Regions from separate parts of the Homo sapiens genome. Here region 1 is linked to region 2. Evidence: fine-mapped expression QTL. A gene starts in region 2. The other region holds a variant in brackets. All regions are shown on one strand. Distances are between the middles of the regions.

Region 1 (9,597 bases), 41 kb after region 2:
CACTGTTCATTTATAGAACTTCAATTAGTAGAGTGACCCTCAAGGAGCCTCAAACACAGTGTTTCCTTGTCCCTAAGTTTCTATACTTAAAAAATGGTTACTAAGAGATTATACTATGGAATTATCATTTGTTTATGTAACAAATATAATCTTATAATGTACTTTCCATTTTCTGACATTGTAGTTTTATATCAAGCTCCTAATCATTTGATGTCCTTCCTATAAAAAGAGCACAACTCTTCACCAACCAGTAAAGCATACACGTTGAGATATTTTTTCTTTCTTTAATGTAGTGGCAGATTCTAAATGTCTGACTTTGGTTTTCTCTGTGACTAGAGTGTGCCTTGCTTGATGGTTGGCTGTGGTCTCTGGTCATGAATCAAAGTAAATCTAACTGAACATGCATGAATTACACAAGTGATTTTTGCACAGTTATTTAACCAGCCATAAGCATGTCATGAAGACCACTGGCCATCTTCACACTTCAGACAGAAAGTCATAGTCTTTTTTTTTTTGTTTTTTGTTCTTTTAATTGTAGCTGTGGGATGCTACAAATGGAAAATGTGTGGCAACCTTAACAGGCCATGATGATGAAATACTAGACAGCTGCTTTGATTACACTGGAAAGCTTATTGCAACTGCTTCAGCTGATGGTAGGTGATCTGTTCATTCTTTTAATTTTTGGAGAGATTTATGCTTTGCTTGATAACCATGCATAATTCTACACTATGGGTCATTTCTTTGATGACCAGCTATGATAAAAAACCATGTCTCATCTCTATCGTGACCATGTATGGCACAATAGTGTGTCTATATCATATACCTGATAACCACATGTAATGTTATGCAATGTCTGTGTCACCTCCTACATAACGAGGTATATGAGGTCTTTGTCATCTTCTTAATATCTGTATATGATGCTATATTCTGGGTCATCTCCCTGATTTTTATTATTATTATTATTTTGAGATGGAGTCTCACTCTGTTGCCCAGGCTGCAGTGCAGTGGTGCGATCTCGGCTCAACGCAACCTCCGCCTCCCAGGCTCAAGTAATTTTCCTGCCTCAGCCTCCCGAGTAGCTGGGAATACAGGCATGCACCACCATGCCTGGCTAATTTTTGTATTTTTAGTAGAGACGGGGTTTCTCCATGTTGGCCAGGCTGGTCTCGAACTCCTGACCTCAGATGATCCACCTGCCTTGGCCTCCCAAAATGCTGGGATTACAGGCGTGAGCCACCGTGCCCAGCTTCCCTGATGATTACATATGATGTTACCCTATGTTGGCCTTGTCAACTTAATTACCATCAATGGTGCTATAATCTCCTTTACTATAACCACATGTGCTGTTCCGCTATGTCTACTGCATCTTTGTGATAAGCATACATGATGCTATGCTATACATTGTCTCTTTGATTACCACTGTGATTCTACACTATGTGTCATCTTATTGATAACCATATATAGTGCTATCCTAGGTGTGCTTCAATCCTGTGACAGTCACATGTGACACTACACTATATCTGTCATCTCCCTGTTGCTCACATGTGACATGATATTGTGTCTGTCTTATCGCCTAAGGATCATGTTTATTTCTACACTGTATCTGCATCATCTTGTTGAAAGTTGCATATTATGCTATACTGTGTTTTCATCTACTCCTTTAAAACCACATTTGATGCTGGGCCATATCTGCATCATATCCTTGATAATCATATATGATGCAAAACCATGATCATCTTGCTGACAAATATGTATGATACTAACACTCTGTCCACGTCATCTCGTTGAAGCCACATGCAATGCTATATGATGTTTTTATTATCTCAGTGACGACCATCTGTGTTGGTGTACTATGCATGCATCATGTCCTGGATAACATTTTATGATACTGAACAACAAGTCATTCCCATGACAACCATATATGATGTTATATTATGTGTCATCTCTTTGACAAACATATGTGATGATTCATTGTGTCTGCACTATTTCCCTGGCAAGTATTTATGATGCTACTCTATGTCTGCAGCATATTCCTGAAAAACATGTGTTAACACTATACAATTTCTACATTATCTCCCTGACAATTTCCTATTTTACACTAAACTATGTCTACACCATATCCTTGATAACCACATGGTACTATACTATGTCTCCATCATCCTATGTCTCCTTGGCAAGCATATGTGATGCTATACTAAGTCTATGTCATATCGACATCACATACCATGCGTGATGCTATTCTGTGAGGCATAGAATTTGAAGTATGAACTATGTGTCATCTTCCTGAAGATACAGATGATGCTAAACTACATCGATACCATCTACCTGATGACCACGTGTGAAGCTACACCAAGTCTGTTATCTATCTGATGACCACATATGATGCTATATTGTATCTATGTCATGTATCTGACTATGTTTAATTTACACTGTTTTTATCCTCTTTATAATAATGTATGATACTATACTGTATCTTTATCCAATTATTTATAACCATATATGATACTATTCCATATCTTAGTATTTCTTAGAAATCCATGTATGATGCTATAGTATTTATACCTCATTGCCCTGGCCAACATGTCTGCAGGGTCCACTATATCACATCACCACCTTTAGAAAGGTGGTGATATTATCTATCTATCTATCTATCTATCTATCTATCTATCTATCTGTCTGTCTGTCTGTCTCCTATTGGTTCTGTTTTATACTATATATAATTTTATGTATTTTTTATATTATATATTTGTACATTTTTATATATTATATATTTATATGTATTACACTATATATACTATGTATATAATTCTGTTTATAGTATATATAGTATATAACCAATAGTATATAAATACACACACACATATATATAGTATATAACCAATATTATATAAGTATACACACACACATATTTATATATGAAGGCTGAGAAGTCTTGCCATATGCCATCTGCAAGCTGGAGAATCAGGAAAGTCAGTGGTATAATTCAGTGTAAGTCTGAAAACCTAAAAACTTGGGGGGACCAATGGTGTAACTCTTAGTCTGAGGCCAAAAACTTGAGAGAACTGAGGAGGGCACTGGTGTCAGTCTTGGAGTCTGGGGATCTGAGAACCAGAAGCTCGATGACCGAGGGCCAGAGAAGATGGATGTCCCAGCTCCAGAAGAGAGAATTTCATCCTTCCTCCACCTTTTGTTGTATCTGGGTCCTCAATGGATTGGATGATGCCTGCCCACATTGGTGAGGGTGGCTCTTATTTACTCAGTCTAACATCCTCACAGACACACCCAGAAACAATGTTTTACCAGCCACGTGGGTATCCCTTAACACAGTCAAGTTGACACATAAAATTAACCATCACAATGCCGCACTGTGTGTGTATATCCTGTTACCCACATATGACATTATACTACATCTGCATCATCTCCCTGACAACCAAATACAACATCGTGATGTTTCTGAGGTATCCTAAAACATGTGTTATGCGTACCTTATTCTTTGATAGTCATATATGATATTGTACTATGACAATTTCCTTGATGATCATGTATGATGCTATATAATATATGCATCATGGCCAGGTGTGGTGGCTCATGCCTGTTATTTCAACACTTCGGGAGGCCAAGATTGGAGGATCGCTTGAGGCCAGGAGTTTGAGATGAGCCTGGGCAACATAGTGAGACCCCATCTCTACAAAATTAAACAAAAATTAGCTAATTAAAACAAAAATTAGTCAGGTGTGGTGGCATGCACCTGTAGACCTAACTACTCAGTAAGCTGAGGAAAATAACCTGAGCCCAGGAGGAGTTCAAGGTTACAGCGAACTATGATTATGCCACTATAATCCAGTCTGAGTGACAGAGTGAGACCCCATCTTCTTGATGAATATATTTGTGGATGAACACACACACACACACACACACACACACACCCCTCATATTCTAGACAGCCATATGTGGTGTTACATTATTTGAAATGTATTGGACAATGATGTGTGATGTTATATTATTACTATATCACCCCTTTAACAACCCCATAAGATGCTATATGTTACTTTATACTATTTCGGCATCATATTCATAATAACCATTTATTACACTAGGCTACAATTAATCTCCAGGACCTACAAATATGATACTACACTATGTCCATGCCATTTGGAAAACAGGGTATGATGATACAATATTTTTGCATCATTTCCCTGACTACTATTTATGATGCTGCAGTATGTCTGCTTCATTTTCATGATAAGCACCTGTGACATTACAACATATCTGTGTCGAATCCATGGTATCTTCATATGACACAAAATTATGTGTCATCACCCAGATACTTTTTTTCTGCATCCAATCATCCATGAGACCCTGATGTCTTGTATGAAACTATGCTATGTGTCATCTCCCTGATAACATATAACACCGCCCTATATCTGCATTATCTCTCTGACAACCTAAGTAAGCTTATACTATTTTTTGAGCCATATCCTTGACAATTGTATATGAAGCTATACTATGTCTCATCATGTTTTTGGCAATGGATGAAACTATACTATGCTTGCATATATTTAAGAATCATGTATAGTTATATATATATGTATACACATACATATATATGTGTATATATACATACATATGTGTATATATACATATATACATATATACACGTGTATATACACATATACACGTGTATATATACATATATACACGTGTATGTATAAGCATATATACATATATACATGTGTATATATACACATGTGTATATATAAAATTATACATGATTATATATATTATATATATATTACATTCTGAGATATTGTGAATTAGGACTTCAACATATGAATTTTAAAAGGACACAATTCAGCATATAATAGCACATATGACATACTGTGTGTTTGCTGCTTCTGCCTGACAACTGCATATTATTTTATGTTTTTATCATCTTCTTGAAACCACTTATATTACACTGTAACTTCATCATGCCCTATACAAAGGGCTGTGCTATACCTTATGGGTGACATGGCCTAGTTATTTAAGGATGATGCTATAATATATTTACTTTGTCTCCCTGATGATCATTTTATTTGTAAGAACATGTTTTCATCCTCTCCTTGGCAACAACTTATAATTTCTCCACTATGTCTGTGTCATTGCCTTGATAACCACATGTACTTTCTGTATCATCTTTCTGACTACCACATATGATGCTGTATAACGTATGTGTTATATCCCTGATATCCACATGTGATGCTATCTTATCTCTTACCTCTCTTTAGGACCTTTATGAGATTACACTATGTCTACATCATCTCCCTGATGACCACAAATGGCAGCTACATTACATATGTGCCATCTCTCTGACACTTATGCCCCTATACTATCTGATTCATCTTTCTCATGACCATATATCCTGCTTCACTATGTATAGATCCTTTCATGACAACAATATTTGGCTCTGTGCTGTGTCTGTGTGTCTATACTGTGCTACGCTATGCTCTACTCTTCTATGCCATACCATACCATACTATACTGACTTATGTGTGTACATTGTCTTTTCTGGAACCAAGTATAATGTTACATTCTGCCTCATCTCCATGGTCAACATGTATGATGTTATGCTATATCTATGTC[A/G]CCTTCTTTCTCTTTTTCTTTTTTTCTTTGAGATGGAGTCTCGCTCTGTCGCCCAGGCTGGAGTGCAGTGGCACGATCTTGGCTCACTGCAACCTGCGCCTCCCAGGTTCAAGCGATTCTCCTGCCTCAGCCGCCCGAGTTATGTCACGTTCTTGGTAATCATGTTTGATGTTATCCGGTGTGTTCATCTCTTTGATCACTGGACGTGATGCTAAACTATGCCTGTGTCATCTGCTGTCAACAATATGGTATGCTACATGCTGTGTTCCTTATCTTCTTGATGATCATATATAATGCTGCACTGTCTAGTATGTCTGTTTCATATCACTGGAGGTCTGGACATTGCTACACTTTGTGTTTGTCATCTCAGTGATGACCGCCTATTCTGCTTCATTTGTATTCTTCATTTCCTTGAAAACAAAAATGTTTCCCTATGTCTGTGTCACCTTGTTGAAAACCATACATAAGCTATACTGCTGTCATCCCCTACCTGTTAATCATGTAGGATGGCATATTCTGGGTTATCTCCTTGATGATCATATAAAAAGCTGCCATGTGTCTGCAATGATAAACATGATAATTGTGGATTGTGCTCTCATACGTTTGCATCTGTATGTCTTAGACAACTATGTATGCTACACTATCACTCCAAATTTCCTTGGCAACCATATATGATGCCACATTTTGGGTCCTATCACTGATGGTCATGTTTGATGCCCCATCCTTGACAGCTATATGTTGTACAATATTATCACTGCTTATAGCATCATAAATGTTACAAAGGAGCTTGAACATTTGGCAAGCATGTATATTGCTAAACTATTTCTCTGTCATCTCCTTTACAATCGCAATCATGTATGAGTCTGTACTATATCTGAATCATCTCCTAGATAACAAAGTGACATGCAATTTTAGGATTCATCTTTCAGAACCTCGCATGAGAAGATCATCTTCTTGATGATGATTTGTGACACTATCCTTTGTTTGGGTCTTGATATCACCACATATTGTGTTAAAACATGACTACATAATATCCTTCATATCGACATGTGATGTTATATTATGTGTACTTCATTTCCTTAATAACTATAGATGATATACTAAGTTACCGCCTTTATAACCATGTGTTATATCTCCCTATTTCTGAGTCATCACCTTGATAACCACATGTGACATTATACTGTGTGTTTCATCATGTTGAAAATCACAGATAATGCTTTTCTCCTTGATAACCACATATGATGCCTGATATTTATATGGACCAGCTCCTTTGTGACATTTATGATGCCATAATATAGGTTATTTCCATGAGGAAAACCCACAGTGCTGCATTCATGCATGTCGTCTCCTTGATATTCATGTATAATGCTATCCTATGTGCCATTTTAAAATTCCCATATGTGATGGTACTCTACATGCACATCATCCCACTGATAACCATGTGATACTATACATGTGTCATCTCCTTGGCACTGTGTATGGTTCTAAAATCAATCTTTGTAGAATCCTTGTACACCACATATATCCCTGTACTATGCATATGTCATGCTCTTTATGGCCACTGAGATGCTACAGTGTCTCTGTCATCTCCCTGATCATCATGTATGACATTACAACATGTCTACACCTTCTGCCAGAAGACAGTCATCATATCTATCTATCTGTCTGTCTGTCTGTCTGTCTGTCTGTCTGTCTGTCTATCTATCTTCATCATCATCATCATCATCATCTATCTAATCTATTGAGAGAGAGAGTCATATATCTGTATCTCTCTCTCTCTCTCTCTCTCTTTCTTTACATTAGGTCTATTCATGTTCCTAAAGGCCTTTATAATGCAACAATATTTCTGTGGCATTTCTTTGATAAACACATAGGACCTCACATCACATCTGTGTCTACCTCATTTGTTTGATAACCGTGAGTGATGCTGTACTATGTCTGCACCACCTCCTTGATAAACAAATATGGTGCTATACTGTGTCTTCATCATCTATGATCCTGTACTGAGGATTATCTTATATTTTGGGTCATTTCTCTGACCATAATGTATGATGCTACAATATGTCTGCATCTTAAACTTGATAACCGTGGCTGGTGCTATAATACTATATGCACCATCTCCTTGATAACCACCTATGATGCTATACTATGTATACCAAATCTCCTTTACAACCATTGATGATCTATGTTATTTGTCATAAGTAGTGATCTATGTTACTTGTCATAAATAGTGATTACTACTTATGATTCTACGCTGAGCCATCATATTGATATCCATATGTGATGCCACTCTGTGTCATCTCTTTGGAAACCATGTATGATGCTACACTCTGTGCACCTTATATCCAAGAAGATTACATATGACGTTACACTAGATTATGTCATCCCCCTTATGCCCACATTTGGCATTGTATTGTCTGCCTCATCTCACTGATGATCACTTATGAGGATACATGATGTCTACTTCACTGTCTGCATTAACATGTATTGTGCTACATCTTATCAGGGTCATCACCTTGAAAACCACCTATGATGCTACATGTTTTCATCACCATCTTGAAATTTATGTTGGAATCAATATGATATCTGTCTTAGATAATGTCGTACTAATATATGTCATCCTTTTAATCACATGATATGTTTACATCATTGATAATCATATATAATTCTAGGCTATAGGCCACCATGACAACTACATGTCATGCTATACTATGTCTGTATCATCTTTTAACATACTACATATATTGGTACATTATGACTTTTTCACCTCCTTGAGAGCCATGTATGATACTGCTGTACTATGGCTAAACTCCCTGATGACAGTGATGCTACATAATGTCTGCATCATACCCTTGACAAAAACATATGGTGCCACACTCTGTCTGCATCATAATTTTATTAAGTATGTGTTATGGTATAGTATTACTGCAGCACACTTTGATAAATATATGATGCTCTGCTTTTATTCATGTTGTGTAGTGATGTAAACTATATCTTCATCCTTTACTTGATGATGATATATGATGCTATACTATGATTTTATTATTTCCACAATATTCTCAAATGACAATCTATTATGGGTCATCTTTTTGATGGTAATGTATGGTGTTACTCTATGTATGTGTCATCACTTGTGTGTCATCAACTTAAGTACTATGTATATGCTATTCTATATTTGCCTCTTTTTCTTGATATCCATAAAGTATGCTATTTTATGGGTCAGTTTCCTAATGACCATGTTTGATGCTGGAAGATGTCTGCATTATCTCTTTGAACACCAAGTGGGATTAATACTATAACTATGTCTTTTCTGCAATGACCCTGTGTGATGCTAAACTATTTCTGTGACACCTCCTTGACAATAACCTCTGATAATCATCTCCTTGAGAATGATGTGTGATGCTGTAACATACCCTGTCTGTAGTAAATCCTATGGTACTAGACTCTGTTTTGGTCTTCTTAATAACACTGAATATATGTACTATGTTTCATCTCACTACTCCCATTTATTGTGCTAAAATATAATTGTCTCTGTCAGCCATATGTGATGCTATCTTATGTGTCATATCCTTAATAGCCATATATAATGCTACACTGTATCTACTTCCTCTTCTTGATAACCACATCAATGTTATACTATTGTCTATATCATGTCCTTGAAAATTCCTTATGATATTATGCCGTAGTTCATCTCATTTAGGACAATTTATAATGCTACAATGTTTGTGCCATCACCTTGAAAGTTACATATGATTATACATTATTTCTGCATATTTTCATGATAGCTATTTTATCAGTCACATATTTCTAATAAACATCTGTGGCATTTAAATCTTTGTGATTTCCCTGATAACCATGTATGATGCAACATTATGTCTTCATTGTCTTATTGAGACCCTGTATGACTATTACCCTGAAAATAATGTACTGCTACACTATATCTAATATGTAATCATCTCCTTGACAACCACTTAT
Region 2 (9,597 bases):
ACAGGCAGGTGCCATCATGCCCGGCTAATTTTATACTTTTGGTAGAGACAGGGTTCCACCACGTTGGTCAGGCTGGTCTCAAACTCCTGACCTCAGGTGGTCCACCGCCTCGGCCTCCCAAAGTGATGGGATCACAGGCGTGAGCCACCTCACCTGGCAACCTACAATCATTTCAAACTCACCCGAAGTCTGATTCTTTCTGTGAATAACTCCCTTGCAATATTTTTCAGAATTAGATCTATAACAGCAGCATGCCTGGTACTAGCAGGTCCTTTATACACATTTATTGAATGATACAATTAGTGGCCCTGGCCCTGTTAGTTTTCAAGTCCCAGGTAAGATCAGATGCTTTTGAGTCCTGCTGTGGGGATGGAGGCAGGCAGAGGAAGAGGGTAAATGGCGATGTCTGGTCCACATGCCCCCACCCTGATGCCGTTCCTCCGCTCTGGGGCCTGCTGTGATGAGGTCACCTTTAAACCCTGTGCACAGCAGACTGCTCCTGCCTGGCTCTGAGCATCTGTGCCTTCTCTTTCTAGGAGAGGATTGCATCTCTCTTTTTATCTGCTGCTCTCAGTGAGGCTCCAACACCAGTGATGCAGTCATCTCACTGAAGTTGGTTTTCTCCAGGAGAAGCTGAGCCAAATGGAATCCACCAAGCCCAGCCGCAGCCGGAAGCCCTACTCCTCCCTTACCTTGCCCAGCCTCAAAAATACAGAATCTGGATCCCCCGGACTGACTCCTTCTTCCTTCTCCTCCTCCTCCTCTTTCTCTCTCTCTCTCTATAAATATAAATATATATATGTATAGATATACTACATCCATATATATATATATATATTTTGAGACAGGTTCTGGCTCTGTCACCCAGGCTGGAGTGCAGTGGTGTGATCTCAGCTCACTGAACCACCGCCTCCTAGGCTCAAGCCATCCTCCCACCTCAGCCTCCTGAGTGGCTTGGACTACAGGTGAGTGCCACCACACTGGGCTAATTTTTGTACATTTTGTAGAGATGGGGTTTTTCCCTGTTGCCCAGGCTGGTCTCAAACTCCTGAGCTCAGGCAGTCTTCCTGCCTTGGCCTCCCAAAGCACTGTGATTACAGGCGTGAGCCACCAGAGCCACCATACATATTTTGATTTTAGAGACTACCTCCCTCCCCAACTCCCATCCTCCCAGGTACCTTCTGATTCTTCCCTCAGCCTGATGTCCACTGTCCTCTCTCAGTGCATTGGAGCATCTGAAACCCAATTATGTAGAAAATTCCAGCTTCTTCCCGTGTTGTTTCTGGTTCTCATTTACATTCGAGGATGTGGTTGAACAATCAATTTACTGTTCCTGACAATCAGGGAAGACTGCCTGGAATACACAGAAAGACCTGATCATTGGAGATGAAGCCCAATTTCACTCACTTCGTTCTGTCCAAGCCAGTGTAACCTATTAAGCTAGCACAGTGGCTCTCAAGCTTCATCATTCACTAGAATCACCAGGAAAGCACATTTAAACATGGGTTGTTGGACTTCACCATCAGTGTTTCTGATTCAGTAGGTCGGGACTCGGGGGAGGCGAAAATGTACATTGCTGATGAATTCCTAAGTGATACTGACCCTGCTGGTCCGGGAACCATGCTTGGAGAACTGAAGCCTAGAGTGACTTCACTGTATTAGCCTGGATTGGTTTAGGAGATTAAAATTACTGCTACTCATTATTTAGTTTCTGGTTGTTCAAGGCAGGTCCTGGTGGGAATGTCTTAGTTCAGGCTTCCATAACAAGTACCGTTGACTGGGTGGCTCACAAACAATAGAAACTTCTTCCTCACAGTTCTGGAGGCTGGAAGTCTGAGATCAGGGTGCCAGCATGCCCTTTTATTTTGAAATAAATCAGTATACTTTTCCTAAGAACAAGGACATTCTCTTACATAACCAGTACAATGATCAAAGTCAAGAAACTTAACACTGATAAAATACTATTATCTAAACCACAATCCCTATATACAGAGTTCATCCATTGTCTCAACGATGCCCTTTGTAAGTAATTATTATTCTGGTTCAGGATCTATCATCACTCAGTGCATTTAGTTGTCCTTTTTAGATTTATTTAATCTCAAGTATTTCTTTAGAGTTTTCTTTCCTTGACTGTCAACAGTTATTTTATACAATTTCCTCAGTTTGGTTTGCTCCGATGTTTCCTTATGATTTGAGTCAAGTAATTCATTTTGGGCAGGAATTCCAGAGAATTGCTGTTTTTTTTTGTTTATTGTTTTTTGTTTTTTTTTTTAACAGAGTCTTGCTCTGTTGCCAGGCTGCAGTGCAGTGGCACGATCTCGGCCCACTGCAACCTCCGACTCCCTGGTACAAGCAATTCTCCTGCCTCAGCCTCCAGAGTAGCTGAGATTACAGGCACGTTCCACCACGCCCAGCTAATTTTTGTATTTTTAGTAGAGATGCGGTTTCACCATGTTGGCCAGGATGGTCTCGATCTCCTGACCTTATGATCTGCCCACCTTGGCCTCCCAAAGTGCTGGGATTACAGGCATGAGCCACTGCACCCGGCTTTGCTGTGTTCTCTTCAGTGCATCGTAATACCAGGTAATATATGTCAGTTTGTCCCACTATTGGTGATGTCCTCCCTGACTCAAGTGATCCTTTCACCTCAGCCTCCTGAGTAGCTGGGACAATAGGGGCATGTACCACACCCAGCTAATTAATTTTTTTGTAGAGACCGGATCTTGCCTTGTTGCCTAGGCTGGTCTTGAACTCCTGGGTTCAAGCAATCCTCCTAACTTGGCCTCCCAAAGTGTTGGGATTATAGGTAAGAGCCACCGTGCCCCACCCAAAGATCACGTTTTAAATGGGTGCCCCACCCAAAGATCACATTTTAAATGGCATGAGCACAAGCAATAACATAGGTGACCAAAATCTACCAAAGACTTTCTCATTTCTATAGAGCAAACTCTTTGCCCCTCCCTCCATAAGTCCTTCCAGAGTGTCTTAGTGGCTAGGAGAAAGTTTGAGCTGGGAGAGAGCTTGGATTTCATACGGTTCCCTGTTTTCCAAGTATGGGATGCTTACTACTGGTGAGAAAAAGATGATTTTTTTTTTGCACATTTATATTGGGTTAAATTGTGTCACTTAGTAGCAAAGGCTTTGCCATCTCAACAATCTTTTCAATCTTCTGAACACATCAAGTAGGAAGGCTCAGTTGAGTGCTATTCCGTCTTGTAGCCTGTCTTAACAATCTCAAACAGTTGCTAATTTCCTTCCTTCCCTTCCTCCCTCCCTCCCTCCCTCTTTCTTTCCTTTCTTCCTTCCTTTGTTTACAAAGAAAGGGATGGTTTTGGGTTCAGAGTCTTTGGCAGTATATAGTAATTAGTATATAGTAATATAGTAATATATAGTAGTATATAGTAATTCAATGCCTTTAGGTCAATATATTTTCCATTTTTACTGTGCATACGCATATATACAATGTATTTTAAAAGTTGGCTTTACAATATGTAGTTTTATCATTTGGTTTACAACTAAATATATTGTGAACATTTTCTCTTCTACAACAGTTAAAAGAATTGCATAGCTTGGAGGAAACATAATTTATTAAGCAGTCTTGTTGGGGACATTGAGGTATAATTTTTTTTTTATAAGGAGACTTCATTCTTTTTACAACACCTTTGGGAAAAAAATTGGAGTCCTTGTCTCATATAGCTTTCTATAGATGACGGAAACTTACCCTTCCATTTAGCCTTTTAACTTTCTTCTCTACACCCACCTAATCACCATCAAGTAACCCATTTTATGTTTTCCAACCTCTCTCTCCCATTTGCTTCCTCTTTCCTACCCAGTCTCCCTGCATACATGCAGATGAACTTCCATTCCTTCAGCCCTCTGTTTCCTCCCCTTAAAGAGGCTTTCTTTCCATTTAAAGAGACTATTTTAATTGATTTTTATCAACTCTACTCAAAACTGTATCCTAAGGTCCACATTAGGATTGGTCTTTAATAATCTGAAGATAATATTCAATTGTTTAAAAGAACTTTTAAGAAGACCTTGGTAGAATTACATGTATCAAGAAACATGACTTAGGCACAATGGAGATATGGCTGACTTTCTTTTGAAAAAAGAAGTAGTTTTTGTGGGGAGGGCAGGGCAAAGAGGTAAGAAGTATTTGGTACTACAAGGAAATGTTAGAGACCATTTTGGAAATGTATTCATTATTTTAAGGCAACTAACAAATGATCATCTTTCAGTTAGGACATTATAGCAGCAGCCTTTACTGGTCATGAAATTTGAATGATATCTAAAATCATATTTCTGGAAATAGGTCAATGTCAATTAATAGTAACTTTGTATAGAAAGGCAGATGCCAGCTAGCATATAAAAGTGGTGCATGCAGACGGTGGTAGTTCTGGAGTCCTGGGAGCCATGAGGTGCTCATCCATCACAAGGCCATCACAGCCAGGTAGAAATGCCTGAGGAAAGCAGCGGAGCTGCCCGTGCCAGCATTTACACATGGAACACTTCTTGGGCAGCCGGGTGTCATGGGGCACAGACCCACAATTCTCTTTGCGTACACCGTGCTCACAGTTCCATCCATAGAAGGAGGGGAGGCAGGCACAAAAGGACCCCAGCATGCAGGTTCCCCCATTCAGGCAGCAGGTTCTGTTTGGCTCCTTACTGTCCTGTATCCCCATGGGGGGCACAAGCTGGGAAGACCGAGGACGAATTGCAGGCTCCTCCTGGGGCTGAATGCTGTCATCTCTGAAGGCCAGGTCTCCCTGAGATGGACGCACAAGTTCCCGATGGCTCAGCCTTTAACAAGCAATTCAACGCCTTTAAAAAATTGCCTTTACTTTTACAGTTACTGGCTGTTTACTGAAAATTTCATATAATTTTAAATTTAGAAATAAAAACTTCACAGATGGAATTAAATTTCATATAATTTTCAGTAAACAGCCAGTAACTGTAAAAGTAAAGGTAATTTTTAAGATTACATTTTACTAAGTGAAGTAAAATAAGTGAGTCAATCTAGAGACATTTTAAGAACTTAAAACTTAGGTATGGATCTCTGGAAGAGGTAAGGAGAGATATGGCTCATAGTTGCGCAGATAACACAGGAATGACTCAAGTTTGAGAAATTCCAGTTGAGGCCAAATTCCTTAAAGGAAATTGACAAGCTGGTTGGCTGACTCTGTCTCTCCGCAGGCTTTCTCATGGAAACGTGGCAGGCAAACAACGATGCTGGCAAGAAATTGGACAAGCCGCATGAAGGCCTGGAGAGTTTTAAGCCCAGGTTGAGAGCACAGGTGTAGGCTTTCTGGTGTAGGTTCCGACGCACCTGCCTTCCATTCCCGCCTATCCATTTAGGCTGCGACCTCTGGTAGTTCTCCACTTTCTCTAATTCTGAGTTACTTCATCCTTAAGAAGTGGTGCATAACTCACACCTTGTTAGGATTGTATGAGTATGTGTGCATACACCGTTTAAAGCAATGTAGGGCACAGAGTCAGGAAATGCAAAATATTAAGTTGAGGTCATTTTTCTTTTGGGAGGACAAGGACAGGGCACGGGCTGGGGCCCTAGAGTAGTAATTAGCGATGGGCTTTTCCTCCCAGCCTTCCTTTTGGGAAACGCAGTGTGCTAAAAAAGTGCATGCAGCCCAGGCTGTGGCCTAGGCCGTCGGTTCCCGGCCATGCCTAGCTCCTCTGAGGTCGCCCTTAGTGAGGACACGAGGTGCCCTCACCTCTTTCACTCTAGACACCTCCAGAACACTCGCCCCCCGCGCGCCGGAGCCCCGGGTCGCCACCAACCGCCCGCGGAGCCAGACCTCCCAGCTCTGCGCCCCAGGACCGCGCGGTGCAACCTGCGCATGCGCACCCGCGTCCCGCTGCTGTTTAGCCGTTTCCAAGGCTACGAAGCCCATCGGCCGGGGATAAGAGAGCAAGAAAATGAAGCTCAAGAGCCTCCTGCTCCGGTATTACCCGCCAGGTACGCACCAGCCCGGCCCCGTCATCCCCACGTGGGACCCTGGGCTCCCAGACTGGGAGGGTTTGGGGCGGAGGAGGGCGCAGCCACTGAAAGGCGGCGGGGTCCCCAGGTGGGGCAGGAAGTCGGGCACTTCCCAACCTGTGCCCCTCATTCCTTCAGATGCTGGACTCTTCCTCAAAACATTAACAATTACTCTTTTAGGAATTTAAAGAGTTTAGCTTGACTGTGCATGTCAGTCTGTCTGCATTTATTGAGTGCCTACTGCGTACACGCTTTGTGCTCTCTGCTATGGACCTTTAAAGAAGTTCATAGTGCTTGATTTCAATGAGTGAAGTAATTATGAAATAAATTACTTAACTATTACTTAGTAACATAAGCAATACATTAATTACCTAATCCTTGCCTAACTCTAATTTTAGGTGAGGACATGGTCACCTTTAAAGAATAAGTGACACCCATTGATCACCCAGCTTCTTAGGGACAGAAATAGGAGTGCAATTCTTGGGTTCTAATTCAGAACTCGTCTTCTGAATTAGAAACATCTGCAAAAAAAAAAAAAAAAAGAAAAAAAAGAAAAAAATCTGCAAAACATACCACAAGGCAGAAGATAACCAAATACACTTGCCCAATGAAGTTTGGATAGGAAGTGTCATAAAGATTTCAAAGGAGGGTAAGATACTTTGGACCGGTTTTGTTAAGAATAGCTTTATGAGGGGTGGGACTTGAATTTCAGGTTGAATATCTCACTTTTCCCTGCAACACATCCAACTGCTTGGTCAACATCGCCGATGAGGTATCGCATAGAGATCTCATGATTTCTTTTTTCCAGTCCCATCCCAATCCTGCTGCTTCCTCAAACTGTGCCCTGCCAGTAGAAGGCATCATCACCCAGCCTGTTTTTTGCCAGAAACCTAGGTGGTCACTTTTTGTTTCTCTCCTGTGATCATTCACTGCCTCCCCCACCCCCCCAACCCCCGGCATTCCGTTATCATTCTGCCAGCTCTAAGTCCAAAATATTCTGTGAATCCATCAGATTATCCCTCTTTCCATAGCACAGATTTCTTGGTCTAACATCCCTTCCAGCTGCCAACCTAGTCCAACCCTCCATTCCAGCCACCATTCCCTTTGGCTGAGCCACTCCAGTGGCTTTTCAACTGGATTCCTGGTTTTCACCCTCATCTCCTACAATCCATCTGCCACTAGGAGCCAGTGGGATCTGAATTCAAGATCTCCAATAGCTTCCTATCATGCTTAGAATACGATCCGCAACCTGTGGGATTTGGCTCATTCTGTGCTGCTGACTTCTAAAACTTCACTTGTCTACCCTCACTATACTTCTGACTTCTTTAGCTTGTTCTTCTAAGACTTAAGAGAGGGCCTTTCACTCATTCGTTTTTTGGACCCAGCTTTCCCTAGAGCTAGGAAAAGCTGCTTCCTTTTCTTCATTCAGTTTCAATCAATGTCAACCACCTGAAGAGACTTTCCTACCTATTCAAAGTAGCCTGCACTGATTTTACTCTATGCCATAAAGTGCTTAAAAATTATATTTGTCATCATCCAAAACTCTACTTGTTTTGTTTCAAATGTCTGCCCCTTTCCCATTTAATGTAAACTTCGTGAGAACTAAGATCTTAGTGTGGTTTGATCATTGTAGCACCCTCAGCTTCTAGAAGAGATTTGGTGACACAGAAGATCAGGAATGTTTGTTGAATGAATGTATGGATAAATGGATGTGTTTGATGAGAGGTCAGGTATGGAAATTACTGAAAATAAACACTGAAAATCTTAAGGGATGCTGCTTCTGCCTCCCTGGAAGACCGATCCTGGACAGCTACTTTCTCCAATGGGAAGTTGACATTTGTAGAAAAGACATGCATTTTCTCCTTCATAGAATTCCAGTTAAAATAATATGAGAAAGCTATATATATGACAGTATCTAGATAAATTTATTTTATGTAATTAATTAATTAATTTAATTTTTGAGACAGAGTCTTGCTCTGTCACCCAGGTTGGAGTGCAGTGGTGCAATCCAACTCCACCTCTTGGATTCAAATGATTCTCATCCCTTAGCCTCCCAGGTAGCTGGAATCACAGGTGTGCACTACCAAGCCCAGCTAATTTTTGTATTTTTAGCAGAGACGGGGTTTCACCATGTTGGCCAGGCTGGTCTTGAATTCCTCACCTCAAGTGATCCACCTGTCTTGGACTCCCAAAGTGCTGGGATTACAGATGTGAGCCACTGCATCAGGCTGAGAGTATCTACGAAATTTAAATTAGGCATAGGTAGATAGTATATAGAAAATTTAAAATTAAGACTAATAGTCTGTTTCCTTTAAGTATTCCATAATTTTCTTTTGGCTCTTTTTGCCCATAGGCCTGTGCTGGTTCCCATAGATGTACCAATAAATGAAGCTCTTGCTTTCATCTCTTTGTTGTGGAGTGTAGGTTAAGAATATGAGCTCTGGGTTCAGAATAACGGCTTCTCACCATATACAATAATAAAAAAACTTGGGCAATTTGTTTTATTCTATCAAAGCATGGGTACATGGTGACAACAGCACCACTTCACAGGTCTACTAGACCCTTCCAGCTTCTTATCTTATTTGATTCTTTCTCTTCAGAGTAGAGAAAATTTTTGGAAGAATACTCTCCCCAAGTGCTGTCCTCCCTTCCTATCATGTTTTCACGCGGATTGCCCCACTGAAACTGCCCACTTTAAGATCTCCAATGACATTCACATTGCTAATCTACTGGCCAAGCCACAGTCCTTGCCTGCCTTGACCTGACAGCAGCATTCAACCACTCTGCTTTTCTTTGGCTTCCAGGACACATATTCTATTTTCCTTCCTGTCTCACGTCACTTCTTCTGTGTCTATCTTGTTGGTTCCTCTTCTTCTTTTTGATTATTTAATGTTGGAGTGCCCCAGAGCCCCAACCTTGGATTTCTCCTTTCTATCTACACTCATACACTATGCAATCTCATCCATTCTCAAGGCTTAAAAACTATCCTGAACTGAGGTCAGGAGTTCGAGACCAGCCTGCCCAACATGGTGAAACCCCGTCTCTACTAAAAATACAAAACAATTAGCCAGGTGTGGTGGTGCGGGTCTGTAATCCCAGCTACTCAGGAGGCTGAGGCAGGAGAATCGCTTGAATCTGGGAGGTGGAGGTTGCAGTGAGCCAAGATCACACCAATGCACTCCAGCCTGGGTGCCAGAGCAAGACTCTGTCTCAAAACAAACAAACAAACAAACAAACAGAAAAACAAAAAACAAACCATCCCGCATAGTCCTGAGTACCTGAGTGCCCACCCGACACATTCATTTGAATGTCCACCGTACATCTCATGTGGGGGTCTCCCATGGTCTTCCCCATCTCAGCAAATTGCAGCTCCATTTCTCCACTTACTCATGCCAAACATTTTGGACTCTTCCTTGTCTCTCTCTCATCTCCACATCCACTAACAAATCCTGCTAGTCCTGCCTCCAAAATATATGCAGAATCCAACAATTTCTACTACCTGACCACTACCATTCTTTTTAGCTTGAAAGCTTCCTTCCACCCTTGCCCCTCTTCAGTCTATATGGCAATGGGATGGCTCTGTTAGAACATAAATATGACCA

Direction of the effects. Alleles are on the strand shown, and positions count from the first base shown. SD is a standard deviation of normalised expression in the study named.
In carriers of allele G in region 1, the expression in fibroblasts of the gene that starts at base 5,876 in region 2 tends to be higher than with A alone (moderate effect, 0.41 SD a copy in GTEx).

Evidence for each region.
Region 1: its variant is fine-mapped to the expression of DAW1 in fibroblasts (GTEx, PIP above 0.99).

The regions. Positions count from the first base shown.
Region 1 is chr2:227,906,600-227,916,196 of GRCh38, forward strand. DAW1 (dynein assembly factor with WD repeats 1) reads left to right here. Exons shown (of 13, transcript NM_178821.3): 10 at 539-653. Among named protein-coding and RNA genes, the nearest start is that of DAW1, 40 kb to the left of the region's middle. The variant A/G (reference allele first, on the strand shown) is at 5,623.
Region 2 is chr2:227,865,756-227,875,352 of GRCh38, forward strand. It overlaps DAW1 (dynein assembly factor with WD repeats 1), which reads left to right and starts at 5,876. Exons shown (of 13, transcript NM_178821.3): 1 at 5,876-5,974. The coding sequence starts at 5,935. It also overlaps the pseudogene CRIPTOP2.